Homo sapiens: one gene and its partners. The protein of the gene in region 3 interacts with the protein of the main gene of each other region in a pairwise test. Each region holds a gene or a part of one and is shown on either strand. Other genes may lie near its edges.

Region 1 (8,455 bases), on a different chromosome or scaffold from region 3:
TAATTTTAGCTAAAAAAAAAAAATGTGCTGCCCACACTAATCTCAAGTTCAGTTTTTTCCTTCTTACATACAGCTGGCCAAAAAAAAAAAAAAAAAAAAAGCCCAGGATGACAGAAATAAATTTTTTCAAACAATATGAAAACAGATGGAGTGGCTGGAGATACACAAGGAGGCAGGGACATGCTGCTCTCTGAGCCCTAGTACGTCCAGCCCTCCTTCTGGCCCCATTCAATGGGTTACACAGGGCACCACTTGGCCAGGGGTTTCCCAGGCCTCGAGGAACACAACTTAGAGAGAGAGAAGACACAATCAGGAAGACCTATTTAATCAGCAGTTATAGACGTTCTGTTATGGTTCTTATTTATTTGTAAAATATCCTCAGACAGAAGCCTCAGAATCAGCTTCAACACGGGCTACAGGCCCTTTACTCTTCAGTCTCTTGAAGAAAAAAAGTCATGTTCTAAGAAATACAAAGCTCTCAGGATCTGGCCCCTAAAGTCCCCACAGGCTACTTTACCTCCTATAAACACATTGTGAACTCTACCCTATAGCCCTGTCAAGGCTCAATTCTGCCATTGCCTATGCAACCCCCTCACTCAGTGTGCTGTAGAGCACTAATTTCAAGACTTGCCAGAATTTCTTTTTGTTTTTTGAGATGGAGTCTCGCTGTTTCGCCCAGGCCAGACAGTGGCGCGATCTCGGCTCACTGCAAGCTCCGCCCCCTGGGTTCACACCATTCTCCTGCCTCAGCCTCCCGAGTAGCTGGGACTATAGGCACCCACCACCGCACCCGGCTAATTTTTTATTTTGTATTTTTAGTAGAGACGGGGTTTCACCATATTGGCCAGGATGGTCTCAATCTCCTGACCTCGTGATCCGCCTGCCTCGGCCTCCCAAAGTGCTGGGATTACAGGCGTGAGCCACCGCGCCCGGCAAGACTTGCCAGAGTTTCTATGATCACTAACGAAAGAATGACTTTGATATAGTGTGGATATTTGTCCCTACCCAAATCTCATGTTGAAATGTAATCTCCTGCTGGTGGCTCACGCCTGTAATCCCAACACTTTGGGAGGCCGAGATGGGCGAAATCACTTGAGCTCAGGAGTTACAGACCAGCCTGGCCAATATGGCGAAATCCCATCTCTACTAAAAATACAAGAATTACCCGGGTGTGGTGGCACACGCCTGTAGTCCCAGCTACTCGGGAGGCTGAGGCAGGAGAATTGCTTGAACCCGGGAGGCAGAGGTTGCAGTGAGCCAAGCTCGTGCCACTGCACTCCAGCCTGGGCAACAACAGAGTGAGACTCCGTCTCAAAAAAAAAAAAAAAGGAAATGTAATCTCTGCTGTTGAAGGGTCACAGAATGGATCCCTCATGGCTTGCTACTATCCTTGTGATAGTGAGTAAATTCTCATGAAATCTTTTTTTTTTTTTTGAGATGGATTCTTGCCCTGTCGCCCAGGCTGGAGTGCAGTGGCACAATCTTGACTCACTACAACCTGCACCTCCTGGGTTCAAGCAATTCTCGTGCCTTAGCCTCCCAAGTAGCTGGGAATACAGGTGCACACCACCACGCCTAGCTAATTTTCTGTATTTTTAGTAGAGACGGGTCTCATCATGTTGGCCAGGCTGGTCTCAAATGCCTGACCTCAAGTGATCCGCCCACTTTGGCCTCCCAAAGTGCTGGGATTACAGGTGTGAGCCACTGCGCCCAGCCTCTCATGAGATCCTGTTGTTTATTTTATTTATTTATTTATTTATTTTTGAGATGGCATCTCACTCTTGTTGCCCAGGCTGGAGTGCAATGGCACGATCTCAGCTCACTGCAACCCGTCTCCCAGGTTCAAGCGATTCTCCTGCCTCAGCCTCCCAAGTAGCTGGGATTACAGGTGCCCACCACCACACATGGCCTTTTTTTTTTTTTTTTTTGAGACTGAGTCTTGCTCTGTTGCCCAGGCTGGAGTGCAGTGGTGTAATCTCGGCTCACTGCAACCTCTGCCTCCCGGGTTAAAGCTATTCTCCTGCCTCAGCCTCCCAAGTAGCTGGGACTATAGGCGCAGACTGCCACGCCTGGATAATTTTTTGTATTTTAGTAGAGATGGGGTTTCACTGTGTTGTCCAGGCTGGTCTGGAACTCCTGAGCTCAGGCAATCCGTCCACCTTGGCCTCCCAAAGTGCTGGGATTACAGGCGTGAGCCATCATGCCCAGCCAATCTTGTTTAAATTGTGTGGCACCTCCCCAACTCTCTCTCTCTGGATCCTGATTTTTGCCACGTGACACGCCTGCTCCCGCTTCACCTTCTGCCCCTGAGTGAAAGCTCCCTGAGTCCTCCCCAGAAGCCAAACAGATGCCAGCACCATGTTTCCTATACACCCTGCAGAAATGTGAGCCAATTAAACCTCTTTTCTTATAAATTACCCAGTCTCAGGTATTTTTTTATACCAATGCAAGAACAGCCTAATACAGACTCAATCCAACTTCCACCAGTGTTTACTGAGGCCTACTATGTGCGAAATGCTGGCCAGGTGCTATGCATCGTAAAAGCACACAACAGGCCCTGGCTACAGGGAGCTTCCAATCTAGTGACAAAATGATTAATTCAGAATAGACTAACCATGAGAACGAACAGGTATGGTACCGAGGAAGATTGGAGAAAGATTGCATTTGGTCAACAGAATTAGGAAAGGTTCATGAAGGAGATGGTATAAAATACTAGCCTAGAAAAATAGGATTTTAGAGGCCAGCCACGGTGGCTCACACCTGTAATCCCAGCACTTTGGGAGGCCGAGGTGGGTGGATCACTTGAGGTCAACAGTTTGAGACCAGCCTGGCCAACATGGTGAAACCCCGTCTCAACTAAAAAAAAAAAAAAGAATTAGCCGAGCTTGGCAGCTGGTTCCTGTAATCCCAGCTACTACGGAGGCTGAGGCAGGAGAATTGCTTCAACCCAGGAGGAGGAGATTGCACTGAGCCGAGATCGTGCCACTGCACTCCAGCCTGGGCGACAGAAGTGAGGCTCCATCTCAGAAAAAAAAAAAAGGATTTTAATAAGCAGGGAGTACGCAGAAGGGGGCACTGGGAGGAAGCATGGCAAAGGCCATGGCAAGGGTTGGCACAGATTCTAAGCACCATGCAAAAGGAAGGCTATAGGAAAGGCCTTTGGAAAACCACCCAAAGAAATGTGCAAGAACTACATACTGGGGAGAGACTTTCACAGCCCTCAGAGCTGCCCATCCCAATAAGGAAGGGCATGAGGTCACAAGCACAGTTGCAGTCTTACCTTTTCTGAATGAGTCCAGGCTGAACATTTCTGGCCAGGAGGGAAAGCTGGAATCCTGAGAACAAGGAGGGCCAAGAGGCAATGGTTAATATTCCTGGTCCAGCAACCCACAAAGAAGACTTCAGTAACATGGAGAGCACTGTTCAGAAAATGAAAAAAATGAAACTCTTCACTAATGAGCCCCAACTGCTGCTCCCCAGTCTTGAGGACTGGAAGGCCAGCTCCACTCTAGAGTAATTGTCTTTGCTTCTTTCTAATTGAGCACTTTCTTCCCTGTCCTAAAACTCCCCATATCCTGTTAAACAGAGGGAGATGCATTTCATCATGAGAGACATGTAGTTCTATCTAGTTCATCATAATACTTACAGGTTTCCTTCCCAGTTCATCATAATACTTGCAGGTTTCCTTCCTAGTTATCATAATACTTGCAGGTTTCCTTGGGACTTCCAGGAAGAAACGAAATTCTACATGGACCCCTTCTGTCATGTGGCATCAGGAAACAGGACTGATGACTGCCTTATGGGCAAACTGCCTTACTGGGCTTTCATAAAACCTAGTCAAGACCCTAAAAATGAGATTTGACTGACAGGATCAAAGAATAACTGTACAGTGATTCAGAATAAAAAGCTTTTCATAGCAGTCTCTATGAAATAACAAATATTAAGTTAAAGCACAACTATTAGCCAAAAGTTTTGGTGCATTTTGCTTATTAGTATATTTAACTGAGGACTATACTTAGAGATGACAAGAAAAAAAAGCAACACATCTGGTTTAACAATTTTGTTTTAAAAAATACTCAAACTCAGATTTATAGATGTTTTTATAATCCAGTACTCCTTGATTAGTGCAGTAACCTTAAATGGACTTTGTTTAAAAACATCTACACAGTGTTTAGCCAATCAGAATCATGTCCAACATTGATTGGAGTCTACTGGGGCCAACACTCCGGCTCCTGACTCCTGTTCCCTCTCATTCTCAAATTGTGGGGAGGTGGGGAGTGGAGGGCTGACCTGGGGCGGAATCTTTCAGGTCCATAGCAGGTCTGCCCTGATGGCCTCCACTCCCCAAGGGATGCTGGAAATTTCAGCCCATAGGATATGGTATATCACAGAGAAAACTTCAATACAATATCAACAATGATAACATTTACTTTAAGAAGTTACATTCCGGCCAGGCGCGGTGGCTCACGCCTGTAATCCCAGCACTTTGGGAGGCCGAGGTGGGCGGATCACGAGGTCAGGAGATCGAGACCATCCTTGCTAACACGGTGAAACCCCGTCTCTACTAAAAAAATACAAAAAAATGAGCCAGGCATGGTTGTGCGGGCCTGTAGTCCCAGCTACTCAGGAGGCTGAGGCAGGAGAATGGCGTGAACCCAGGAGGCAGAGCTTGCAGTGAGCCAAGATTGTGCCACTGCACTCCAGCCTGGGCGACAGAGTGAGACTCCGTCTCAAAAAAAAAAAAAAAAAAAAAAAAAGAAGTTACATTCCATAGACACCTTCTATCCAAATGAAAATAAAAAGTGTGTAATTTGACATTCTAATTTAAAAGAAAACCAGAATATTATAAAATCTAAAACATTTTAAGTGAATATTACTTAAAAAACAATACTCCCTGACCAACATGACCCCGTCTCTACTAAAAAAATACAAAAAATTAGCCAGGCACGGTGGCAGGCGCCTGTAATCTCAGCTACTCGGGAGGCTGGGGCAGGAGAATCGCTTGAATCCGGGAAGCAGAGGTTGCAGTGAGCCGAGATCGCACCATTGCACTCCAGCCTGGGCAACAAGAGTGAGACTCTGTCTCAAAAAAAACAAAAACAAAAAACAAAACTCGGCTGGTTGCAGTGGCTCATGCCTGTAATCCCAGCACTTTGGGAGGCTGAGGTGGGCGGATCACCCTGAGGTCAGAAGTTCGAGACCAGCCTGGCCAACATGAGGAAACCTCGCCCCCAGTAAAAATACAAAAATTAGCCAGCTGTGGTGGCGCATGCCTGTAATCCCAGCTACTCAGGGGACTGAGGCAGGAGAATCGCTTGAACCCGAGAAGCGGAGGTTGCAGTGAGCCAAGATCACACCTCTGCACTCCAGCCTGGGCAACAGAGCGAGACTCCATCTCAAAAAAATAAAAATAAAAAATAAATTTAAGAAAAAAAAAAAAGAAACAATACTCTATTGCTACGAAATGGTAAACTGGCTAGGCACAGTGGTTCACACCTGTAATCCCAGCGCTTTGGGAGGCTGAGATGAGAGGAGCACTTGAGACCAGGAGTTCAAGACCAGCCTGGGCAACATAGTGAGACCGCATCTCTAAAAAAAATTTTCAGAATTAGCCAGGTGTGGTGGTACATGCTTGCAGTCTTAGCTACTCAGGAGGCTGAGGCAGGAGGATCACTTCGCCCAGGATTTTGAGGTTTACAGTGAGCTGTGATCACGCCACTGCACTCCAGTCTGGGTGACAAAGCAAGACCCTGTCTCTCTTAAAAAAAAAAAACAAAAAGTAAGGCGGGTGCAGTGGCTCATGCCTGTAATCCCAGCATTTTGGGAGGCCGAGGCAAGCAGATCACCTGAGGTCGGGAGTTTGAGACCAGCCTGACCAACATGCAGAAACCCCGTCTCTACTAAAAATACAAAATTAGCCGGACGTGGTGGTGCATGCCTGTAATCCCAACTACGTGGGAGGCTGAGGCAGGAGAATCACTTGAACCCAGGAGGTGGACGTTCCAGTGAGATGAGATTGCGCCACTGCACTGCAGGCTGGGCAACAAGAGCGAAACTCTGTCTCAAAAAAATTTAAAAAAAAAAAGCAAAATTTAATGGCTAGGTGGGGTGGCTCATGCCTGTAGTCCCAGCACTTTGGGACGCCCAGGTGAAGGATCGCTTGAGGCCAGGAGTTCAAGACCAGCCTAGGCAACACAGTGAGACCCTGCCTCTAAAAAAAAAATTTGTAAGTTAATTTGCTTGCAAATAGACTCTTGATTTTGCTTTTTTTTTTTTTTTTTTTTTTTTGAGACAGAGTCTCGCTCTGTCACCAGGTTGGAGGGCAATGGCGTAATATCAGCTTACTGCAACCTCCACCTCCCGGGTTCAAGCTATTCTCCTGTCTCAGCCTTCCAAGTAGCTGGGACTACAGGCACACGCCACCATGCACGGCTAAATTTTTTTGGATTTTTAGTAGAGATGGGCTTTCATCATGTTGGCCAGGATGGTCTCGATCTCTTGGCCTCATGATCTGCCTGCCTCGGCCTCCCAAAGTGCTGGGATTACAGGCATGAGCCACCGTGCCCGGCCAGTTTTGCTTTTTAAAAGTCCCTAAACCTCTAGCCCAATATGTCAATTTAGGCTCATGTACCATTCTTTTTCCTGTACTAATCTAAAAAAACGATACTATGAGAATCAAGACAGGATCTTTTAGAGACAGAATTTACAGAGCTCTAGAACATTTCATAGAGATCCAAAAGAAAGCGGTCTTCCTTGTAATGCAGTCAGTAATGGTGTTTTGTTTTGAGACAGAGTGTTGCTCTTGTTGCCCAGGCTGGAGTGCAATGGCATGATCTCTGCTCACTACAACCTCCACCTCCCGGATTCAAATGATTCTCCTGTCTCAGTCTCCCTAGTAGCTGGGATTACAGGCACCCGCCACCACGCCTGGCTAATTTTTGTATTTTTGGTAGAGACAGTGTTTCACCATGTTGGCCAGGCTGGACTCGAACTCCTGACCTTGTGATCCGCCCGCCTCAGCCTCCCAAAGTGCTGGGATTACAGGCATCAGCCACCACGACCGGCCATAATGCAGTAATGTTTAAAAATCTTTGTAGTGGGCCAGGCTTGGTGGCTCACGCCTGTAATCCCATCACTTTGGGAGGCTGAGGCAGGCAGATTGCCTGAGGTCAGGAGTTCGAGCCCATTCTGGCCAAGATGGTGAAATCCTGTCTCTACTAAAAATACAAAAAAAATTGGCCAGGCACGCCTGAGCGCAGTGGCTCACTCCTGTAATCCCAGCACTTTGGGAGGCCGAAGCAGGTGGATCACAAAGTCAGGAGTTCGAGACCAGCACGGCCAACATGGTAAAACCCCATCTTCACTAAAAATACAAAAAATTAGCCAGGCGTGGTGGTGCACGCCTGTAGTCCCAGCTACTCAGGAGGCTGAGACAGAAGAATCGCTTGAACCCGGGAGGCGGAGGTTGCAGTGAGCCAAGATTGCACCACTGTACTCCAGCCTGGGTGACAGAGTGAGACTCCATCTCAGAAAAAAAAAAGAAAAAAATTGGCCAGGCACGGTGGCTCACACCTGTAATCCCAGCACTTTCGGAGGCAGAGGCAGGCAGATCACAAGGTCAGGAGTTTGAGGTTAGCCTGACCAAAATGGTGAAACCCCATCTCTACTAAAAATACAAAAATAAGCCAGGCGTGGTGGTGCGCACCTGTAATCCCAGCTACTCAGGAGGCTGAGGCAGGAGAATCGCTTGAACCCAGGAGGCAGAGGTTGCAGTGAGCCAAGATCCCACCACTGCACTCCAACCTGGGCAACAGAGTGAGACTCCCATCTAAAAAAAAAAAAAAAAATACAAAAAAATTAGCCGGGCTTGGTGGCATGAGGCTGAGGCAGGGGAATTGCTTGAACTAAGGAGGTGGAGGTTGCAGTGAGCCAAGATTGCACCACTGCACTCCAGCCTGGGCGACAGGGCAAGACTGTCTCAAAAACAAAAAACCTTGTAGCTCAATGTGTCTCTTAAGTAATTTACAGATAAGTAAAATGCTATTATATCAAGATTTCCTGCATAATGAAATACAATTTAACTCCAGGTAGAGTCACTTGGGGATGGTTCCAGGACAGAGACTCCACAATGACTAAAAATGATACCCTTCTGGCTGGGCACAGTGGCTCATGCCTGTAATCCCAGCACTTTGGGAGGCTGAGGCAGGCTGATCACCTGACGTCAGGGGTTTGAGACCAGCCTGGCCAACATGGTGAAACCCAGTCTCTACTAAAAATACAAAACAATCAGCTGGGCATGGTGGCAGGCGCCTGTAATCTCAGCTACTTGGGAGGCTGAGACAGGAGAATTGCTTGAACCTGGGAGGCAGAGGTTGCAGCAAGCCAAGATCGCGCCACTGCACTCCAGCCTGGGGGACAAAGCGAGACTCTGTCTCAAAAATAAAACAAAATAAAA
Region 2 (8,579 bases), on a different chromosome or scaffold from region 3:
GGCCTTATATGTAAGAGGGATAGGTGGCCACCTACACAATGCTAATTAAATTGTGCCAAGAAGTCTTCTTGCTCTAGAAATATCACCTATGGTTATATGAACCTAACGTGTGAAGTGACTTACAGTTTGCAGAACAATTTCAAATAACTATATTTAATTTTCTCAACAGTTCTGAAATAGGAAAGGCATTATCATCTCTATTTTACATAAAAACACTGAGTCTAATATGTACAAGGAAATTATTATATTTAAGCCACCTAGTATGTGACAGTCATTATTCATACACTACTTAACATAACTCTCTCTCTAACCCCATTTTACAGGTAAGGAGAATGAGGTTTAGAGAAGTTAAGAAACCTATCCAAGATAACACAGTTGATAAGTGGTAAAGCTGAGATTAAACCCAGATTTGTGCCCTTATGATTCCAGAGTCAAAGCTCATAACAATTTTGAAAAACAGATTCATTTTTAATAAACTGATAAAAGGTTTCCAACATGAATTTCCAGTGTCTTGTTTATAAGCAAGATGAAATTAATCTAAAATATATTTTGTTTTTCAAACCAAGTACTCAAGAAATTAAGCATGCCCTCAACTCCTGGGCCCAGCAATTAAATCTGACATGGCAAATACATGTATTACACCATTATAAACTTATGGCCTGATGCTTTCTGTAAACTTTAACCTGTTTTCATTAACTGTTCTAATTTTATTAGTCCATGTTTGCATCTTAATTTATATTATATGCCCTATATGAACATAAACATATTGCTTTTATGTTTTAATTTATATATTTATCTAATTCAGAAGGGTATTCTCTAGGGTTATCATTAATACCTCACTTGGATGACTCAAGCTCGGCCCCCATTTCACCACACACACACACACACACACACACACACACACACACACACACTACCATGGAAATAATATGAGGAACCCTATATCTTCTATATGTGCAGCTCAAGAGCTCAACATTAATTAAATCTTAATATTGATAATGCTGGGCTCATATTGCCATTAGCTCCTCAGTAATGGTCACTTGATGCTGTCCTATAACCAATTCCTATTATCTGTCACCCACCCCAATTGCTCCAAGACAGTGTTTTCAGTCATCACCACCTTGCTACATTATTAACTAACACTTCAATCACTTGCTGCATCCCTGCAGAGGCAGACTTTCTGGGATGTGAGCATTATAGCCTGGATGATTTCTTCATTGCAGAACTACCTCTGGATGAGGGTCAATGGGTCCATGCATTACAAAAAACCTAAACTCAGATTTGGTACACACGTTTTTATCTGATCCACTTTTGTGATTGACCTAGAACTATAATTTAGAGGCCACGTGATTAAATGAATGAAATATTGGCTTTGGTGTCAAATTGGCTGTATCTGAATATTGTTTGCCATTTACTAGCTTTGGGACCATGGGAAACTTCTACTTATTTTCTCTGACTCTCTTTTTCCTCATTTATAAAATGAGTATAATAATAATAGCTGCCTTAAAAGTTTGCTGTGACCATTAAATGAGACAATGTATATCAAATGTCTGGTGTACAGTAAGTGGTAAAAAAAAATAGATTTTCTTTTACTTCTTCCTTTTTTTATTCTCATCTCACTTGCCCTGGTGCTACTTAATTTCTGGTTCCGACCCCCATGAGAGCAAGAAAAATGAGTGATATATGTTGAGGAAACTTCTGATAGCTTCTGATTTGTACAAAGAGATAACCTGTTTGGAAGTAATTGCCATGTTACCCATCTTAAAACAAATATGTAAATATTTAAATCTGAAACAAAAAACTCTATAAAAGCAATAATAGTCTATTGAATTTCATACAGCTAGATCCAGCAGTGAGGCACATGTTGTTAGTTGCTTTTGCCAATACTGGTGGTGATATAGCCACACTCTCACCTGTTTGTTCTCATCAATTACCACACAGAGTTTGCAGGACAGCTGGTGGCAGAGAAGACAGGACTACTGCCTATAGCTGTGTAATAGAATAATGCTGCCTGGCCCATTTTGGGAAAGTATCATGCTTTCACGATTCTCATGCTTTAATACATGGAATAAATGACTACAGACTCCTCAAAAACCTGGTATATCTTCCAGAAGCACTTTTTGGACATCATAAACTTAGAGAGTTTTTCACATGCATAGCCAAATTACATTTGGAAAGTGAGCAAATGGGTAGGATTTTCTGATGACTGTCTCCCCAGAGGTCAACATGACAATTTCCTTATAAGCTAGATGGAAACAGAGAAAAATCATCTTTATGTCTTTATATCCTGAATTCTTATTTGAAGCAAAAGAGAAAGGGTGTATTTTAAATGATACTTTGCCTTCATTTACACATCTGCAAAATTTCTTTAAAAAAAACCCCACAGCAACACAATTTTGGTAGATCAACCACACTTTTTTAAAAGTTTCAGATGGGGTTTCATTATATTTCCCAGGCTGGTCTCCAACCACTGGGCTCAATCCATCCTCCTGCCTCAGCCTCCTGAGTAGCTGGGATTACATGTGCATGCCACCATTCCCAGAAATCATATTTATATTAAAGTCATAATTGCTGTGCAAAAGTAAATATATCTTTCTACAGACCTTACTTAGCATTTCAATACTGTCATCAAAATTTTTTGAGAGGTAAATAAATGATATCTGGAACTGTGTCATGAATAAAGAGGCTATGGGTAATGAAAGGCATTTATACCTTAGCTACTTCTTAGGCCCCCTTCAAAACTCATGTTGAAATTTAATTGCCATTGTGACAGATTAAGAGGTGAGACCATTAAGATTAATTAGACCATGAGGTCTCCACTCTCATGAATAGACTAATGTTGATAAGGCAGTAGTGAGTTTGGTATTGCTAGAGTGGGTTGGTATGAAAGTGAGTTTGGCCCTCTCTTCCTTGCTGTCTCTCACTCCCTTGTGCTTCCACCTTTTGTCATGGGATGCCACAGCAAGAAGGCTCTTGCCAGAAGTCAGTTCCTTGATATTGGACTTTCCATCCTCCAAAACTGTGATAAATACATTTCTTTTGTTTATAGATTACCCAGTCTCAAGTATTATGTTATAGCAGCAGAAAATGGACTCAAACAGCTGCCTTGCTAACTAGGCTACTTTTTGGTGAAACTTCAACCTTCATTACCCATGTTTCTCTCCCCAAAACTGTTATTTAAGTGAAGTAAAGAAAAAGGCATATACTTTATTACTGAATTTTCAATGCTCAGTGGATGATTGAGTTACCCTGATAGCTTTTTGCGAAAAGGTAGGTTTTGAGATAGCTGTATTTAACTTTGAAATTTGAATGTATTCAAATATTTATTTATGGGTAAAATTTATGGGTAAAACTTCATGAATTATCTGGTTGATCGCTATCTCTAAGGGGTCTAATTGGTACTTTATATTTCTATTTCTGCCAAATATGAGCCCTAGTTTTGATTTAAAATATGAACTACAAAATGCCATTTTTTTCTTTATTTCTACTTCTATAACTGTTCTTCCCATAGCATGACATCTCCTTTTCTGCCCATGTATATCAATTTTTCAAAACACAGCAGAAGTTTTAATCCCACATAAACTGTGTCACAACTACTTTAACCCACAATTATAGTTCCTTCTTCTGAATTTCCATTGCAGTCTTAGCTTATACCATGCAGCTAATGGTCTGTGGCTATTTTTTATGCCATTCTTCAATAATTTTATAGATGTTATTTTGCCTCCCAAGAAAATTAGAACATTCCCTGAAGTCAATATGGATTGCATATTTAACTTTTTTGGTAAAATCAACACTTAACACAATAGTGAATGCACGCAGTAGACATTCAATAAATATGGACTATTTGCACAAAGGAAAACAAGTTACAAACAAAATATGAGGTAATATCCATAAATTATACACTTCATGGCTTTGGAAAATTCTTGGTGCCATGGTCATTGTCATTGTTCCCAGCAATTTGGTTCCTATATTACACCATACTGTTATGTAATCCAACTAAGATGATATCTTACCAAACAGGTATTTCTAGGTAAAATTGTTTATTATTATAGTAATTTGATAAGAACAAAAGGCATTCCTCAGGCTTTGTTGCTATTATCAGGAAAAAAATATGCAACCTATTATACTGAAACTATTTATCTAAATGTGATTCACCAACTATTAGCAGGCATTAACCCAAGTTGCAATTTCCTCTCTGATACGACAAGAAGTAAAAGAGCTTTAACACCCCACAACAATAATACTGCTAATAATACTATTATTTTTACATAAGGACAAGGTGCGTAATAAACTGAAGCAAGAATAGAAACAGAATCTGGGGAATCAAGAGATTACTTAATAGTGAACCATGCTAGGCAAGTGAACAGATTCTTCTGGAAAATATGTTGGAAACATGCCACTTTCTTGTATAGATGGAGACAACACACTCTGGCAGGAAGATGTGGACTTGCAGACCCCAAAGGTTACTTCTATATGAGTTGTGTTGATTTGCAGTAGTGACCATTCCTTTACATTAGTACTTTGTACTTATGCATTATTCTGTCTCTCTCACACACACACAGATACACAGACACCATATATCTAAAAATTGAAGCACATGGTATTTGAGTCTGTTATCTTTCCTTAAGAGAAAAGAAATATACATTACTGTTGAACTGTAGCAACATATACTAATATTGAAAATAAGGAAGACACAATCTCCCAGGTCTAGCCTGCACAGCACAAATTTTATGTAAATTTAGGCAGGTTTGCCAAGTTTATGGCTTTGTCCTAGAGCAACAGTAATTGTCTTGGATGATGGAATGGTTGTTGTAATTTCGGAGCAATTAATCTGTAGATCAATGGCAGAAAAGAAAGCTGGGAAAGTAAACTTGCTTAAAATGAAATTTAGGCTGGACAAACAGAAAGTTCCCTATGCAAAAATGTTGCATGGCCAAACCTAAGCTAATATTTATAAATTTATGATACCTGTTATGCCATTTATTCTGACCCTCCCAACTTGAGAGAAACTTCCAGAGCTCTATTACAGGAAATACACACACGTACACACACACACACACACACGCGCGTGCACACAGACATAGACAGAGACAGAGAGAGAGAGAGAGAGCTTATAAACTAACAGACAAGATGAAGGATATAACTGCAACGTGAGGGGCTAAAAAATAATGTCACAATGATTCTTAGAGGAGTTCTTGTTTCATCTTCACAGATAGAAAAGCAATTTAGCCCCCAAACCTCTGTTCTCCACCAAGTTAATAATATGCATCCCCAAACTGGAAGTTTAAGTTACAATATTAGGCACAATACTCTGCTCAATGTGTTTCCAAATTTGAGGAGACTTGACAACTACCTTGTAGAAACTAAAACTTCATAAATAACTCTTTAAAAAATATCATGCTTCCATGATTCTTCTAAATCCTTCTTGAAATGATTTGTCTTTCCAACTGCCCTGCATCAGAATTAATGTAGTGAATGCCTTTACCATCCATCTACTACTGTGCAAACACCAGTCCCACATTTAAGTTCAAAGGAGTGTCACAGATTCATCCCCACCCACCCCCCTCCCCACTCCTTTTCTCCCTCCCTTCCTTAGCAACTGGTAACCCCAGAAAGAGAACTCCAAATCTAGAAAGAAGCAGTTGGTCCCTGGCTTCATTCTAGTTGCCAAGCCTCTAAAGCAGAAGCAGGAGTCATTTCTCCAGACCTAGCTGGCCTGTTCAGTGGGTTATCTCCACCACCTCAGGAAAGCTATTCTGATCAAATTTCTTCATGGCTTGTATTGAAAACGTGTAAGTACAAAACCGAGTACAACTGTTTAATTTTGAAGGCAAAGTCAGTTTGAATTGCTTTATTGTGTAACTGGGACAGGGATGAATGGGTTGGAGGAGATGTGGGAGGAAATTACAGACAAAAACTTGAAGGACATAAATTTAGTTACTAAGAATACCGGATTTAAGAGTGGCAACTTTGAAGTGTAATTTTGAAAGAAAATTTACAAATCCCTAGTCTAAACAGTGGGGTTTAAACATGAGGAAATTCTTACTCTAGGGTGTGGTGGTGGTTGAATGAAAGAATTTTTAACAAAATTTGGTGTGAGTGTTGAATGATACCTCAAGAAGAGAAACTTGTGTGTTTGTTAACATAACTAACTTTTCTTTGACTTCTGTGAAGAAAAAGATATTTTACTTCGGAAGACATACCAGAACAATCTTGCCAGAATCTGAATGCCAGGATTAGTGAATCATAGATCCTAGAGAGAATTGAAAAAGCTGGTATTTTCTATTATATGCTTACTATTAAGTTATGTGCATCTTCTAAGCTTCCTTGCTGCCTTGTGGAGGTGGGGAAATGAGGAATGAAATAGGCCACTGAGTAGTCATGAAGGGTAATCATGTAGCCTAGTACTAAAGAAGCCACCTGGGAAGGGGCCAGAGCGCTGAGCAAGTATTTGGCTACATATAGGGGAGAGGGCACTCCTTTTTTCCCTGGTATATTTCAGTGAGCTCAGTCAATTACATATTGTAGCTATTTTCTGGTCAGTGCATTTCCATTTTTATTAGCTGTTTGATTTCTGTTTTTGCAAGCCTTGGAGGGCACGCCCCTTCACCCTTGGTAGTATCTGTGGACAAAAATGGGAACCAGGAGCTGCACCACGACATGCCCCTGCAATGTCTGAGTTCCAAGCCAGAGGATGACGCAGAGCCCTGGGGTCAACCTCAAGTACCGCTGAGACCTTCCGTCAATGTGCTGACTGATCTGGATAGCAAGCAACTGGAGTGGCCCTCTGAAAGAACAGGATCCTGCATTCCTCTTCATAGCTTGAGAGCTCATAGACACCCCTACGGGCCACCACCTGCTGTTGCAGAAGAGTCCCTAGCAACAGCAGAAGTAAACAGCTCTGATGCACTGGCAGGCTGGAGGCAGGAGGGACAGGATGCTATTAATGTGTCCTGGGAAGTCTCTGGCGGCCCTCCTGCACTGATAGTAGGGGGCACAAAGGTCAACAATGGGGGCACTGAGAGAGGCAGTAATAACGCAAGGTTGCATGTAGCTTTGCCACAAGGTAAAGGGTTCTTTCCACCCAGGGGCCCACAAGTGAGAGGCCCTTCACATATTCCCACCCTTAGATCAGGGATAGTAATGGAGGTGCCGCCCGGAAATACACGAATAGCCTGCAGAGGAAAGCTGGCTCATGTTTCTTTCCCACTCAGGGGCCCATGCCACCCCATGCATAATTGGCCAAGGCCTATCCCGTTGTCTTCCAGTACTCCAGGTTTACCTTCTTGCTCTACTGTTCATTGTTTCATCCCTCCTCGACCTCCGATTTTCAATCCCTTTCTCACTATGCCTCTTCCTTTTGCTCCTCCTCCGATATTTGGTCCTCCACTGCCTTCTTATTTTGCCCATTTCCATTCTGGGGGAATGCCAGCTCCTGCATCACCCAACAGAGAGCACAGCTGATGGCAAAAAGGAAGGATGAAAAAAGGGTTGTGGAAAGAGGTGAAAGTTATTCATTTATGCTTTTATATTTGAAACCTTGTACCCTCCCACACTCTGTTTAGCACTAATGTGCCCTACTTGAAACCACGTACCCTCCCACACTCTGTTTAGCACTAATGTGCCCTATTTGAAACCTTGTACCCTACCACACTCTGTTTAGCACAAATGTGCCCTACATACTGGAGATTAAATAAAGATTGTGAAGTCTGAAATGCTGTAAATTATTTTTCAAAATGACACCCCAGGAACCAAAGCCTTGGATTTTGTGTTCTATCTTTAAGGTAATTAAAGCAGAAACAAACCTGTCAGTGTTTTCTAAATGGCTTAGTTAAATGACTGTTACTATTTTCTATTGAGTTGTCTTGCAGTGTGACTGGGGAAGGGTGGTTAGGTTCTTCCTAGGCCAAGGCTAGATTGGGGAATCTCTATCTACCCAAGGCTATAAGGGGTGCTTAGAGCTGGATGGCTGAATTAAGAAAAGTTCCATAAAGGCAGCCTAAAGTTCAGATAATAGAGAAAAATGAACAAACAGTAAAAGAAGCCAGATGAGATTGAGGTGAGAGTAATAGAGCTAACATTTAGCAGTCATAGGCAGAACCAAGTTGAAAAGTCAGGAAAGAAGGAGGAGGGAAGATGGAAGAGTATTCTTAGACCACTGCTTCAACACGAACTGGTGTTTGTGTTTCAACTTTTCCTTGTTGCTAATTACATAGTATATATAGCTCTGGCTCAATAAGAGTCCAAAATCAAGGTGGAACAGGACTGATCCTTTCACCCTTTGTCTCAACAAAGAGCTTACTATATGTATTAGATCCATTCCCACACTGCTAATAAAGACATACTCAAGACTGGGCAATTTATAAAGGAAAGAGGTCTAATTGACTTACAATTCCACATGGCTGGGGAGGCCTCAGGAAAATTACAATTAGGGCAGAAAGGGAAGCAAACACGTACTTCTTTACATGGCAACCAGAGAGAAAAGTGCAGAGTGAAGGTCGGGGAGGCACTTATAAAACTGACAGATCCTGTGAGAACTCACTCATTATCACGAGAACAGCATAAAGATAACTGCCCCC
Region 3 (5,658 bases):
TTGTTGTAGCCTTGACCTCCTGGGCTCAAGCGGTCTTCCTGCCTCAGCCTCCTGAGTAGCTACAGGCGTGCACCACCACGCCTGGCTAATTTTTGTATTTTTTTGTAGAATCAGTGTCTTGCTATGTTGCCCAGGCTGGTCTTGAACTCCTGGGCTCAAACAGTCTTCCCACCTTGGCTTCACAAAGTGCTGGGATTATAGGAATGAGCCACTGTGCCCGGCGTCAAATATCTTTTAAGCTTATTGGGCAGTGTAGAGAAATGGAAGTGGTCCTTGAGGAGGTCCCCAGACTGGACTTCGCTGCTGGCTCTCCCTGCCTGCGAAGGTGCTCTAGGCCTTGTGCTTAACGGGCTGGGCTAGTGGCTCATCCAGGATTGGAGTCTTAGGTGTCTTGAGGCTGAGACTCTGGGTGTCTAATGCTTTCTCCCTCTGGGTTTCCCATGAAGAGTCAGTGCAGTTTTGTTTTGTTTTTTTTTTTTTTAAGACAGAATCTTGCACTGTTGCCCAGTCTGGAGTGTAGTGGTGTGATCTCGGCTCACTGCAAGCTCTGCCTCCTGGGTTCACACAATTCTCCTGCCTCAGCCTCCCGGGTAGCTGGGACTACAGGCCCTTGCCACCACGCCCAGCGAATTTTTTGTGCTTTTAGTAGAGATGGGGTTTCACCGTGTTAGCCAGGATGGTCTCGATCTCCTGACCTCGTGATCCGCCCGCTTTGGCCTCCCAAAGTGCTGGGATTACAGGCGTGAGCCACTGCGCCCGGCCGAGTCAGTGCAGTTTTAAGAACAAAGTAGTGTGCCGAGGAGAGGGTTGTGCGCCTGTGCTGGTAGAGCCCCCGGGCGGTTTTCTCAAGGTTCTCTCAGGACTTCGAAGAACAGACCCACCTTTTCTTTATCATTTAGAGTTTGGCCCCATTGCTGTAAAGGTCATAAACAAGTTGAGTGTTGAGAAAGTGAAGTAGAGTTAGCATTTTGCAAGATTGCTGTCCAGCTATAAATTTAGAAACATACTGATTTCTTAGGATGGCAGTAGCTTTTATGGCAGCAGAGTCAGACCAAGTCCTGGGTTGATACATTTTTTGGTTTTAAAAAAACCTAGAAACGGCCACTTCTTAGCTTAAAACAGTGAAAGTGGTGAGCGTCCCACACTGTGAGCATTGCTTAGTTCCTCAGACTGACTGTCCTTGCCCTGGCGGCAGGTGCCCCTGACCTGACCCCACTTCGACCTCCAGGCCGGCTCAGCAGAGTGGCTCTTTGACTTTGGAAATTAAGAAAGAGCATAGAGAATCTTAGGCCATAAGCATTTCCTGGATGCTTGTTGAGCATTCCTCAAAAGAACGAGCTGTGCTTCGTCATTTTTTTTTTTTTTGAGAAATTTTATGAGGAATAGTATTTTTTAAAGAGCACATAGTAAACTTTGTAGCTGTTTATAAGGGCTGAAGGGAGATGGGGATCTGGGGAGTTTACCTGTGAGTGGCTTTAACATCAGCTATTTGAACTCAAGAGATTGGTATTTGCTTTTTAGGAACAGCAGTACCTCTTTTGTTAAGAGATTGATTGATTGAGAGTTTCGCTGTCTCCCCCAGGCTGGAGTGAAGTGGCACAATCTCAGCTCACTGCAACCTCTGCGTCCTAGGTTCAAGTAATTCTTGTGCCTCAGCCTTCAGAGTGGCTGGGATTACAGGCGCCGGTCACCATGCCCTGCCAAATTTTTTTTTTTTTTTTGTATTTTTAGTAGAGGTGGGGTTTTACCATGTTGACCAAGCTGGTCTCAAATTCCTGAGCTCAGGCAATCCACCCACCTTGGCCTCCCAAAGTGCTAGGATTACAGGCATGAGCCACCACACCCAGCCTGGGAAGAGATTTTTTTTAACGGAGAATGTTTAAGAGAATGTAAAATACAGAGTTCTTAATTTTTCCAGTTTTACATTTGAGGGTAGGGAGGAAATGTTAATTCTTAAGAGTAGGACCTGCCTATCCAGGTCCTTAATCCAAATACTCTGGAGCCTTCTCGGGACAGGGAACACCACATCTGCTTCTGAGAGCAGCCACAGTTGAGGAGGCTGGTGTTTATTCCAGTGCCCAGCAAAGTTTATTATTAACCGGAAGACACATTCAGTCCATTTTTAGCAAAAGAGGAGGTTTCAGGTTAAATGTTTGGGTGTCCTGCCCGCTGGTTTTCTTTATTAGTTTGCATCTTGATAGATGGCCAGATGAGGGTGGATGTGCCTGGGATGCATCTTTTTGTTTTGTTTTTATTTCGAGATAGGGTCTCTCTCTGTTGCCCAGGCTGGAGTGCAGGGCAGATAATAGCTCACTGCAGCCGAAAACTCATGGGCTCAAGCGATCCTCTCGCCTCAGCCTCCCGAATAGCTGGGATTACAGGGTGCGCCACCACACTCGGCCTGGGACACCTCTCTAGCAGAGTGGTGCAGCGTGTGCTCCTTAGATCGCACATTTTCATCTTTGTATGCTGCCTTGTAAGGAGACTGAAGGGGCTTCTAGACCCTGCTACTCAGGGAGGCCAGTGTGGGAAAAGATTCGGGTGTAAGTCTCAAGCTTGTGTGTCACATACACTCTGGAAAAGATGATTCTCTTACGGGAGTGGGCAGCAAACCTGGTCAGAGGAGCTTTGCCTTGAGCCAGTCTAGCCGTGGGGGAGTGGGGAGGGGCATGCTCTTCCCCTTGGCGTGGGAGTGAGCTGGGGAGTGGGAAGGGCCTGAACTGGACAGGCCCACACCGGTCCTCCTGCCCTTCATTAGCCACATGACACAGCACCTTGTTAGCCAGTTGGAAGGATTTTGGTGTCCTTTGTGCCACTGAGAAGTTTAAATGAGATAAAATACAGAAGAACAGCTTCTGTCTCCCTGGCCTCCTTGAGAGCCTGGTGCGTGCCAGCTCCTCCCTCTGAGTGCAGAGAATTTCACATTGCTAAGTGTCTTTCCATGTGGAATGATAGTGGCACATGAGGGAAAGACAGCTGTGGGAAGTGAGGCTTCCCAGCAGACAGGTGGCCCATGTGACCGTTGTGGTTGATGCTTTTCTCCTGGTAGAGGGGGTGGGGAGAATGCCATGCCCAGTGTGGCCAGTCCCCCACAGAGCAGGCCCCAGTGCAGCTCAGAGTTGTGTGCTGGTGTGGCTTGGGTACCATTCAGGGTCCCGCCTCCAGATTTGCAGGTGCTGCTAAGGGGCAGCCTCGGATCTCACTTTTGGGAGGGATTCATTGGTGTGGTTACTCTGCGTTCAACTTTTGTTTTTTCTTTTTACAGGAACGGCAGAGTCGAAACAAACAATGAGGGCGAACCAGTTTCTTACATGTTCTAACGTTTGACTTTGAAAACAGTTTAAAACACGTGTGCTTGGTCAGCTCCAGTGTGTCGTCCCGTGCGGGGGTTGAGTGTTGCATCTTTGCCTTTCTTGTCGTTGATTTTTGCCCAGATGGATCTGCATTTATTTGTACTTTTTCTATGTATTATAATCCTGTAGAAGTCACTAATAAAGGAGTATTTTTTTTGTCAGCTTATCAATCAGACTGATCTAATGTGAAATGTAAGTATCCTTAAAAACAAAGCATCTATTTTGGCAGAAATTGTGTTCTTAAATTCAGTCATTTGATATTCTGTGAGACTTCATATTTCTCATCCCTTTATTGCTTTTTAGCAAACATAAGAAACCATGAGTCATTTTGTCATTTAGAGTATTCTGATAAAATCTCTTGAAAATACTGAAATCAAAAGGTTAATGATTTTTTGTTCATTCTGATTTGTCATTTTATTATCTGTTATCGGTCTAAAGTGCTAATTTACCCATTTGATTTTTCTGCTAGACAGATAACTTTTAATTTTTCAAATTTGGCAGACACTTTTTTTTTTTTTTTGAAAATCTTTCCTTCCAGATCTGTTGCCCACTGAACAGCCACCCGTCCCTCACTGTCCTGGTGTCCGATTGGGCTGGATGGTGTTGGGGCATGATGTGTGGAGGAACTGGAAGGTGCTTTAGGTCTGGTTCAGGGTCGGGCATTCTTTGTTGTTTGCACATCTTTTTAAATTTTACACCTTTTCTTAAGAATTCTAATGCCGTCTTAAGTTTTTATACCAATAATGCTGAGCTTTAAGTGTAGGATCTGGTAGTACAGACAGTGTGATGGATGATGCTGCTGGTTGTAAATTTCATCGTGTGTGTCTAATTTTTTTTCCTGTTGAATGGGTAAAAACAAAACAAAACTTTTTTTAGAAGATGAATTTGCTGTCATGTTTTGTGGAATGAGGGACCGTTGAGCTCACTACCACCTGGAGTTTGAGTTGAAGCATGAAAATGGTGCCCATGCCTGACGCTCCAGCGCCTGGATCTGCACGTGCCCTTGTAGAGGATCCTTACCGTCCTAGAGAGCAGACGCTTTCTGAAAACTACTTGCTCCAAAAGACCCTCTGAGTTAACGTTTCAGCTGTATCATTAGACTTGTATTTAGAGCGTGTCACTTCCTCTGAACTGTTACTGCCTGAATGGAGTCCTGGACGACATTGGGTTTTTCCTCTAGGAGAATACAAGCCTTAATAAACAATACTATTTAGCAAACTTGGTGTCACCTCATTCTTCACCCTACTTGATGAGTTTATGTGTTGGAGCTTTTTAAGCTGCAGAGCCATTCGGGGAGTCACCGTAGAAAGCCCTGTGTTTCTCAAGGTGTGGGATTCTCGTTCCCTCGCTTTGGAAGAGGGAGCTGTTAATTTCCTTAAGACTATAAACTACATGGCACCGTCACCCACCCCTCATCACATGAATGTGCAGACGCAGCGGTGCGTGCAGCACCTGGGCACCGCTACCCCCTTTCTGGACTTGGCTCCTCACCGTCTCTCTCCATTCATCCTCCAATGCCTCTTATTATTTATGCAATAAGAGTTTAATACCTGTTTAGTTTGTTTTCCTTTTGAGGTAAAATTTATAAGCAGTGAAATGCACATTGTGTACATCTGCAGAAGTTGACAAGTATGTGATAAAGTTATGCAATATTAGCCTCAGCCCAGAAAATCCTGAGCTCAGGCAATCCGCCCGCCTTGGCCTCCCAAAGTACTAGGATTACAGGCACGAGCCACCACACCCAGTCTGTGAAGAGATTTTTTTAACAGAATTTTTAAGAGAATGCAATGCAAAATACAGAGTTCTTAATTTTTCCAGTTTTACATTTGAGGGGTAGGGAGGAAATGTTAATTCTTAAGAGTAGGATCTGCATATCCAGGTCCTTAATCCAAATACTCTGGAGCCTTCTCGGGACAGGGAACACCACATCTGCTTTTGAGAGCAGCCACGGTTGAGGAGGCTGGTGGTTATTCCAGTGCCCAGCAAAGTTTATTATTAACCGGAAGACACATTCAGTCCATTTTTAACAAAAGAGGAGGTTTCAGGTTAAATGGGTGTCCCGCCCGCTGGTTTTATTAGTTTGCATCTTGATAGATAAGGGGGCCAGATGAGGATGGCATCTTTCCCAGGCAGTCACCACCTCTGCCAGAAGTTAGTAGTTGGTTTAAGGAAACACAAAATGAGAACGGGAAAACGTGTCTGTTCTGACAGGCCAGTTAGAGGTAGGCTGTGTGCTCCCACCTGCAGCTCCAAATGCTGCTGTCATTTTAGGGAAGTGTGTTTTCAACCTCGAGTGGCTAATTCC
Region 4 (8,455 bases), on a different chromosome or scaffold from region 3:
CATGAAAGTAAGCATGTGAGTCTGAATTCCTGGGAGGGGGACAATTGTTTCCCTGCCCTGGTCCAGGCCAGACAGACCCGCCAGTCTGTTCCTGGTAGTAAAGCGCATGTGTCTATCTAATGTGCCTTTTGAGGATGTGGCCCTTTTGGGTCTTTGTTTTAAACAATGTCTCAGTTGTATCTCCCTGCCCTGTATAGAAAGGCTTCATCCCCTGTCCTGAGTGTTAAGGACCAAGCCTATATCTGACAAATGTGCTTTTCTTGCCCCCTTCCTTGGACAGGTCTTTGAACCAGGCAGGGTGCATGTGTGTGTGCCTTCAGAGGTCCTCAGGTCAGGAAAGATTAAGAGCCCTATGATGTGTAGGTGGGTGGGGTGCTGTATCCACATGAAAGTCAGGGTAACTGTTAACTTCTTTGGGCCTTTGGTTGACCCTGAGATTGGAGCAGGGCTTTCTAAATGAGATGATGTAGATCAGTCTTTGCCTTCTTCAGGACTGATGAAGCCCATGATGCCCCAGGAGTCCCTCAATGGGACAGGCTGTCGCTCTGAGGATCAGAACTGTGTGCCCCCACTCCAAGAAAGAAAAGTGACCCCCATCGACTCACCCCCTGTGTGGAGCCCAGAGGGCTACATGGCACTGCAGAGCAAGGGCTACCCGCTCCCGCACCCGAAGTCGAGTGACACCTTGGCTATGGACATGCGTGTCAGGTGAGATGAAGCCTGGTCCTGCTGCCTTGCCACTGAAGGAGGACTCCAGGTCCTAATTGAGAGGGCCCTGGGATGAGCTACCATCCTAGGAGACACTGCCCACGGGAGACGTGCTCCTTGAAGGGACTCCTGGTTCCTCTGGGGAAGGAGAGTGTGAGGAGGATTGCTTGAATGCTTTGTCCAAGAGGCTCTTTTCAGATGGTGAGACGTAAGGTGAAGGAGAAGTCCCGGGGTCCTCAAATCCTGGGCACAGGGCAGGCGGGTGGGGGCTTCACAAGGCAGGTGGGGTCCAGAGCATGGGTCTTGGCTCATTTCTGTGGAAGTAAACAGAGTTAGCCCTGCCACCCCCATAGCCCCAGACTCTTCACGGCCTCCCAGGCTCCAGCTTGCTCTTGCTCTTTGACCCGGAGGATTGCCTGGCTCCTCTGTCTCCAGGGGGCACACCGTACCCAGCCTGCGGCCACGACAGTCTTCACTCTCAAGGACTCCAGGGGCCACCGACCAATTCATGGCCTGGCATTTCTGAGACGTGTTTAAAGATAGAACAAATGTTGATGCTTATGTTTTTTTTTGGTTGTTGTTTTTTGTTTTGTTTTTCTAGCTTTCTTTTTAAAAAGTGTTTTAGTTTTTGTTTTTGTTTTTTCTTTTTAAAACTAAGCTCTGTGTTCAGCATGGAAACCAGGAACCAGGCTCCAATCGCATTGACTGATTTTTCTGGTTCCTTTTCAGGAATGAAAGCTCTTTCTCTGCCTCACTCGGAAGGGCAGGGGGCGTAAGTGCTCAGCGCGATCTCTTTGAGGAGAGAGGGGAGGAGTACTTGAGTGCTTTTGACAAGAAGGCCCAAGCAGACTTTGACAGCTGTATCTCTTCTCAAAGAATAGGCCAGGAGCTTTTGTTTCCACCCCAAGAAAATGTTCAGGATGCAGGTGCTCCTGGGGGTCACACCCAAAACCTCAGGTGTTCCCCATTGGAGCCTGACTTTGTCCCAGATGAGAAAAAGCCAGAGTGTGGCAGTTGGGATGTTAGCCACCAGCCAGAGACCGCTGACACAGCCCATGGTGTTGAGCGGGAGACACCCCGGGAGGGGACGGCCTTTAACATCTCCTCCTGGGACAAGAACGGGAGCCCCAACAAACAGCCATCCTCGGAGCCTGAATGGACTCCCGAGCCCCGGAGCTCCAGCAGCCAGCACCCGGAGCAGACGGGCAGGACCCGGAGGTCGGGACCCATCAAGAAACCAGTCCTGAAAGCCCTCAAGGTGGAAGACAAGGAGAAGGAGCTTGAGAAGATTAAGCAGGAGCTAGGGGAGGAGAGTACCCGGCTGGCCAAGGAGAAGGAGCAGAGCCCCACGGCAGAAAAGGATGAGGACGAAGAGAACGATGCCTCTCTGGCCAACTCCTCCACCACCACTTTGGAGGACAAAGGCCCTGGCCATGCCACTTTTGGCCGCGAGGCCACCAAATTTGAAGAGGAGGAGAAACCTGACAAGGCCTGGGAAGCCAGACCCCCACGAGAGTCCAGCGATGTTCCCCCCATGAAGAGAAATAACTGGATCTTTATTGATGAGGAGCAAGCCTTTGGGGTCAGAGGACAGGCCCGGGGCCGGGGCCGTGGTTTCAGAGAGTTCACTTTTCGTGGTCGGCCTGCTGGCGGAAATGGGAGCGGCCTCTGTGGTGGGGGGGTCCTGGGGGCCCGCAGCATCTACTGCAGCAGTCAGCGCAGCGGCCGTGGCCGGGGCCTGCGAGAGTTTGCGCGGCCAGAGGACTGCCCCAGAGCCAAGCCCCGACGGAGAGTTGCCAGTGAGACCCATAGCGAGGGCTCAGAGTATGAAGAACTTCCCAAGCGCCGCCGGCAGAGGGGCTCCGAGAACGGGAATGAAGGCTCGCTCCTGGAGAGGGAGGAGAGCACCTTGAAGAAGGGCGACTGCAGAGATTCTTGGCGGTCCAACAAGGGGTGCTCTGAGGACCACAGCGGTCTAGATGCCAAGAGCCGAGGCCCTCGGGCCTTTGGGCGAGCCCTCCCTCCCCGGCTGAGCAATTGCGGGTATGGACGGAGAACCTTCGTCTCCAAAGAGTCACCCCACTGGCAGAGCAAAAGTCCAGGCAGCTCTTGGCAGGAATATGGCCCTTCCGACACATGCGGATCCCGGCGACCTACAGACAGAGACTATGTCCCAGATTCCTACAGACACCCTGACGCATTTGGTGGCCGGGGCTTTGAGGACAGCCGCGCGGAGGACAAGAGATCCTTCTTCCAAGATGAACACGTGGCAGATTCTGAAAATGCAGAGAACCGGCCCTTCAGGAGAAGGCGCCCCCCACGCCAAGATAAGCCCCCTCGATTCCGGCGCCTCCGGCAAGAGCGGGAGTCCCTGGGCCTGTGGGGACCCGAGGAGGAGCCCCACCTGCTGGCAGGTCAGTGGCCAGGCAGGCCCAAACTGTGTTCTGGGGACAAGAGTGGCACTGTGGGCCGCAGGTCCCCTGAGCTCTCCTACCAGAACTCCTCCGATCACGCCAATGAGGAGTGGGAGACGGCCTCCGAAAGCAGCGACTTCAGCGAGCGGCGGGAGCGGCGGGAAGGCCCTGGGTCCGAGCCCGACTCCCAGGTGGATGGTGGCCTGTCGGGGGCTAGTTTGGGTGAGAAGAAGGAGCTGGCCAAGAGGAGCTTCTCCAGTCAGAGACCCGTGGTTGACAGACAGAGCCGAAAGCTGGAGCCGGGAGGGTTTGGGGAGAAGCCCGTTAGGCCAGGTGGTGGTGACACCTCCCCTCGCTATGAGAGCCAACAGAATGGGACGCCTTTGAAAGTGAAAAGGTAAAACCAGACACCATCTGGGCCCTTTTTGTTGTTGTGTTCTGTTCTCAGCAGCACTGAGTTCACGCATGCATGCCGATGCCGCCGTGTGTCGGGGCTGGGGGCCTGCCCCCAGGCCGTCTGTGCGCGTCTCCATTGCCTGCCCCCACATTGCCTGTCTGCTTCTCGTGGTGGTGTTATTGTGGCTAGAGCTCCCACCCCCACCCCCACCCCAGTGGTGCTCTTGAGGCCACTGTCCAGCACCTGACCTGAGAGTCCAGTCATGTGTCCCTGGAGCCCCGCCGAGGGGCCGCTGCAGCGAGGAACGTTGCCTGTGCACAGTGCCAGGTGCCGGTCAGTCCACCAGAGTCCTCTGCTCCGGAGTTGCTGCCAGGCGGCGTCCTAGGGGGCATCGCTGGCCTCGTGGCTGCATGGAAGTGGCTCTTCCTAGATGGTTCTGCTTCTCCACTGTGAGGAGACGTGGCCCCACGGTGGGGTTGCCACCTCAGCATGGCAGGAGCCCAGCAAACGCAGAGGGGAGCAGGCTGCACATGGTCTGGCGAGCACCTCTTCCACAGCCAGAGGCATTCGGGTGATGACCTCTGCTCAGGGACCAGGAGAGGGTCCCCTGCACAGTCTGGGTTGACTGACTGCACTTGGCTTGTGCCTCGGACAGGGAGGTGCAGGGGCTGCTGAGGCCTTCCCTGTCCTCAGCATACTGAGGAAGATGGCTTCACACCTCCACTCTCCTTAGAATTCAAGGCAGAGAAACTCCCAGAGAAGGAGCCACAGGGAACACCGACTCTTTCAGGTGGCATCTAATCCAGCTTTCCAGGCGCCAGAGGCTGACCCTTGGCTTCACCTCAGTTTTCTGCCCCAAGGGCCCTCCGGCAGGGCAGTCCTGGAGAGGAGCAGAAATGCTGGCGTCTCCATTCTGAGCATATTCCCCTTGTCTCTCTCCCCCCTACACTCTGAACATAGCATGTGGGAGAGCCCTGGGGAGCCACTTTCCCCAGGAGCAGGCAGAGCCGGTGGGGGCAGCCTTACACGTATGTTTGCACACGGACATGGATGCACTGTGGCCAGCCTGCCGCTCCTCCCCACCCGAGGAGTCAGCTAGAGGAAGTGGGCCTAGATCAGGGTGCCGGGCTTGTGTGCAGGCTGTGTGCACGTGCGGTGTTTTCCCTCCTTCCCCAGCTCTGGTTAACAAGATCCTCTTTCCCTTACAGATCCCCAGACGAGGCCTTGCCTGGAGGTCTTAGTGGCTGCAGCAGTGGGAGTGGCCACTCCCCCTATGCCCTGGAGCGGGCAGCCCATGCCAGTGCTGACCTTCCCGAAGCCTCCAGTAAAAAGGCAGAGAAGGAGGCCAAGTTGGCTGCTCCGAGGGCAGGTGAACAGGGAGAGGCCATGAAACAGTTTGACCTGAACTATGGAAGTAAGTCATCCTCATATCTTCAGGGGAAAGAACTCAGGCAGAACCAGGGGCCATGCAGTCCTCGGGCCTCCCGAGTTTGCCCTTGCACTGAGTACCTTAGCTTTCGGAACAGCTCGGCCAGGCCCTGGGCTGGGTTCTGGGGCTGTAGAGGTGAGCAGAGTAGGTAGGATTCCCACCGAGTGTTGCTCACAGCCCGTTGAATCCCCGTGACACCCTGCAGCTTCCGGGCTTTAAAGAGAGGAAGCCTGGGGCCCAGAGACGTTCGGTGGTGTGTCCGAGGTCACACACAGCTGTAGGAGCAGAGCTGGGGTTTAAGCTCTTTGCGTGTTCTCTCAGTTGTGCCCTTGGGCCTCTTTGGTTTGGGGTAACAATGTGTTAGATCAGAGGCGGCCTGAGAAAAGTGCGGAAGTCCTGTCCAGGTTTCTGTCGAGCCTGATGCTAGATCTCAGGCGCCTGTTGAATTGGGTTGTTCTTGTCTCCTGGTGAGTGGAAAGACTGTTCCTTCTCGTGAAATCTTGGTTCAGGTGCCATCATTGAAAATTGCGGGTCCAGCCCCGGGGAGGAGAGTGAGGTGGGTTCTATGGTGGGCGAAGGCTTCATCGAAGTCCTGACCAAGAAGCAGCGCCGCCTGCTGGAGGAAGAGAGAAGAAAGAAGGAGCAGGCCGTGCAGGTGAGGGGCGGAGGGTGGGGGGGCATGGGGCTGGAGGGCAGGCTGGCAGATGCCCAGGAAACCCAGAGCCAGAGGGTAAGGGAGTTCTCGGTCAAGCTCAAGGTGGCAGAGAGGAAGAAAGGAGTATTTAGCAAGCACACATTGTCTCCCCGTTCCTGCTATTACCAAGGCCCTTCTATCAATGTAGGAATAGGTGGTGGCATCACTGTTATGCAGTGGAAGAAACCGAGTCTTGAAGAGGGTGACTTCTCTAGGGTGATAACAGTGGAAACTTGTCCAAGGCAAGATGCAGACCTCCGTCACCTCCCAGCTTCTCCTTCCTCCCCACTCCTCATTCCTGAGTGGAATGAGATTTGTCTCCCTCAAGTCAAGTGGATCGTGAACGCTATACTAAAATGGAGTCAGGGCTGGACCTGCACACAGATTACAGTCCGTTGGCCTTTCAGGTCTTTCTTGGGGGGTGCTTTGCTTGGCATCGCAGTTCTGCTTGAGGTTTTGGGAGACGAGCGTTCCACACATCTCTGGAGCATTTTCAGGTGGTGTGATTTTTGGTACCTGGGATACTTATCCTGGGGAGAATTTGTCAGTCTTGGTGCCTTTGGCTAGACTACAGCATCCTTTCTTCCCCTCAGGTGCCTGTCAAAGGTCGAGGCCTTTCCTCCCGTATTCCTCCTCGATTTGCAAAAAAGCAGAACAACTTATGTCTGGAGCAAGGTGACGTGACCGTGCCTGGCAGCAGCCTGGGCACTGAGATCTGGGAGAGCAGCAGCCAGGGTGAGAGTTGGGGGTGTGACCCCAGCTGTGGCACCCAAGGTCACATCACACACTGGGTTTGCTTCTGGGGAGGATCCTGCTTTTGAGCTACGAATATAGATGGAATACAGATGGAGTACCTGTTTGCTGTGTTCCGCTGCTGAGCTAGTCGCTGAATGCCGTCTGAGTGATTTGCTGCTGCAACCCCCAAACGGATACACAATTTTCCTTGCCTAAAATTGGTAGAAGAGCAGAGCATTCATTAGTCTGGTGATCTGGAAAAGGATGGCCCCTTGGGCTTAGATCACACAGTAGTGGGAATGGCCTTCTTTGTTGGTCGTCGTTTTCTCCCACTAACTTATGGAAGAGAAGCAAATGACAGATAGACCAGCCGCAAGAGTTCAGGAGCTCTCTTCTGTGCTGTGCACCCTTTTCTTAACATGGGGAAGGCTCTGGAAACCCCTCCCTGAATGCTCTTCTGGAAAGGCAAACTGAGACCAGAAGACGGTATACGTTACTTCTTAGAACATTTGTTGCCCTGAAAACTTTTTTTTTTTAATTCTATATCAAATGTAATTTTTCTGGGAATTTTTCCTTATAAAATAGAAAACTATTTTCATAGAATAGGTTCTTCTTGAGGTTTAGGTGAGGCAGGGCCCTGCGCTGTTAGCCCAGAGCATGCATAGATGAATAAAAACATGGACATTCGATATTTCACAGCTCAGGCCCATGAGGGGAGCTTGGAGAGGTCACCTAGTGCCAGCTCATTTTTCTGCAAAGCAGCTGAAGCTTCTAGAGGGAAGGGACTTGACTCAGGGACTCCAGGGTCATAGGACAAGCACCCGAGACACTGAGTTCTGGGCCTTGATTCTTTCACTGTTTCCACATAGCTTGTCCTCATGTGCTCGGTGAAAACTTTGGTTCTTGCAAACTACAAAATAACATTCAACATGCCCAGCTTTGATGGAAAGGAAGCACAACCATTTGATAAAACATCAATAACACTACATTTGGTAGTGGCTGAGTGACAGGTGTCATAGTATTGGTGTCCAAAAATGCCCAGGTGCCAGATTGGTTGAGCTGCCAGGTGTGAATCAGATGTGACTCTCAGGTGTGAGTCATCATCCCCTTTTGTCAGATCTTTTACTCCAGAATTCTGCAGGGGCTCATTGGTTTCTCAGACCAGGGGTTGTGTCCAAGGGATGGCTTCAGAGAGCCCTTGGATATTAAAATAGCATGTGAAAGGATTTTTTTTTTTTTTAAAGATGGGGTCTCACTATGTTGCCCAGGCTGGACTTGAACCCCTGGGTTCAAGCAATCCTTCTGCCTCAGCCTCCTGAGTAGCTGGGATTGCAGATATGTGCCCCCACCCCCTGCTAGCATGTCAACTTTTGCATGCATATCTATTTTTCTGGGCTCCGGATCCATGGCCATTCAAAAAGTGGTCTGTGAGCTTAAAAATTTTTAGTAATACCCGCTGGGATCTTTCAAAGACTCTGTAGAAGCCACCAACTTTGGCCAGGAGTGGTGGCTCACACCTATAATCCCAGCAGTTTGGGAGGCCAAGGCTTGAAGATCACTTGAGATCAGGAGTTCAAGACCAGCAACAGAGTGAGACCCTGTCTCTATTGTTTAAAAAAAAAAGAAGGCCAGGCCTGGTGGCTCACGTCTGTAATCCCACCACTTTGGGAGGCTGAGGCAGGCAGATCACCAGGTCAGGAGATCGAGACCATCCTGGCTAACATGGTGAAACCCCGTCGCTCCTAAAAATACAACAACAACAAAAAATTAGCCGGGCGTGGTGGCGGGCACCTATAGTCCCAGCTATTCGGGAGGCTGAGGCAGGAGAATGGCGTGAACCCGGGAGGCAGAGCTTGGCAGTGAGTGGAGATCGCGCCACTGCACTCCAGCCTGGGCGACAGAGCAAGACTCCGTCTCCAAAAAAAAAAAAAAAAAAAAAGAAAGATATATTTTTTAATGTAAAAAAAGAGAAGCTACCAACTTTTAGAAATAGTATAAGTGAAAAGAAGCATGAGCATAGCGGAAATAACGACAGAGAATCCAGATTGGCAGGAGTGAGGGCTCTGCCCTGCTCACTC

What was found.
Region 1: the proteins of YTHDF1 (region 3) and DHX30 interact in a two-hybrid assay, tested with the Homo sapiens proteins (2 studies listed by BioGRID, with this or other methods).
Region 2: the proteins of YTHDF1 (region 3) and PRR32 interact in binary tests that used the Homo sapiens proteins (3 or more experiments, as listed by UniProt).
Region 4: the proteins of YTHDF1 (region 3) and PRRC2B interact in a two-hybrid assay, tested with the Homo sapiens proteins (2 studies listed by BioGRID, with this or other methods).

Annotation. Positions count from the first base shown.
Region 1 is NC_000003.12:47,805,537-47,813,991, reverse strand, and holds part of DHX30 (ATP-dependent RNA helicase DHX30), read right to left. Parts: intron 3,336-8,455; 5' UTR 3,309-3,335; coding exon 3,281-3,308; intron 1-3,280.
Region 2 is NC_000023.11:126,814,072-126,822,650, forward strand, and holds PRR32 (proline-rich protein 32), read left to right. Parts: upstream 1-5,657; 5' UTR 5,658-5,772; coding exon 5,773-5,792; intron 5,793-6,587; coding exon 6,588-7,464; 3' UTR 7,465-7,715; downstream 7,716-8,579.
Region 3 is NC_000020.11:63,194,342-63,199,999, reverse strand, and holds the end of YTHDF1 (YTH domain-containing family protein 1), read left to right. Parts: intron 1-3,265; coding exon 3,266-3,292; 3' UTR 3,293-4,571; downstream 4,572-5,658.
Region 4 is NC_000009.12:131,473,017-131,481,471, forward strand, and holds part of PRRC2B (protein PRRC2B), read left to right. Parts: intron 1-491; coding exon 492-708; intron 709-1,437; coding exon 1,438-3,519; intron 3,520-4,727; coding exon 4,728-4,933; intron 4,934-5,457; coding exon 5,458-5,603; intron 5,604-6,235; coding exon 6,236-6,377; intron 6,378-8,455.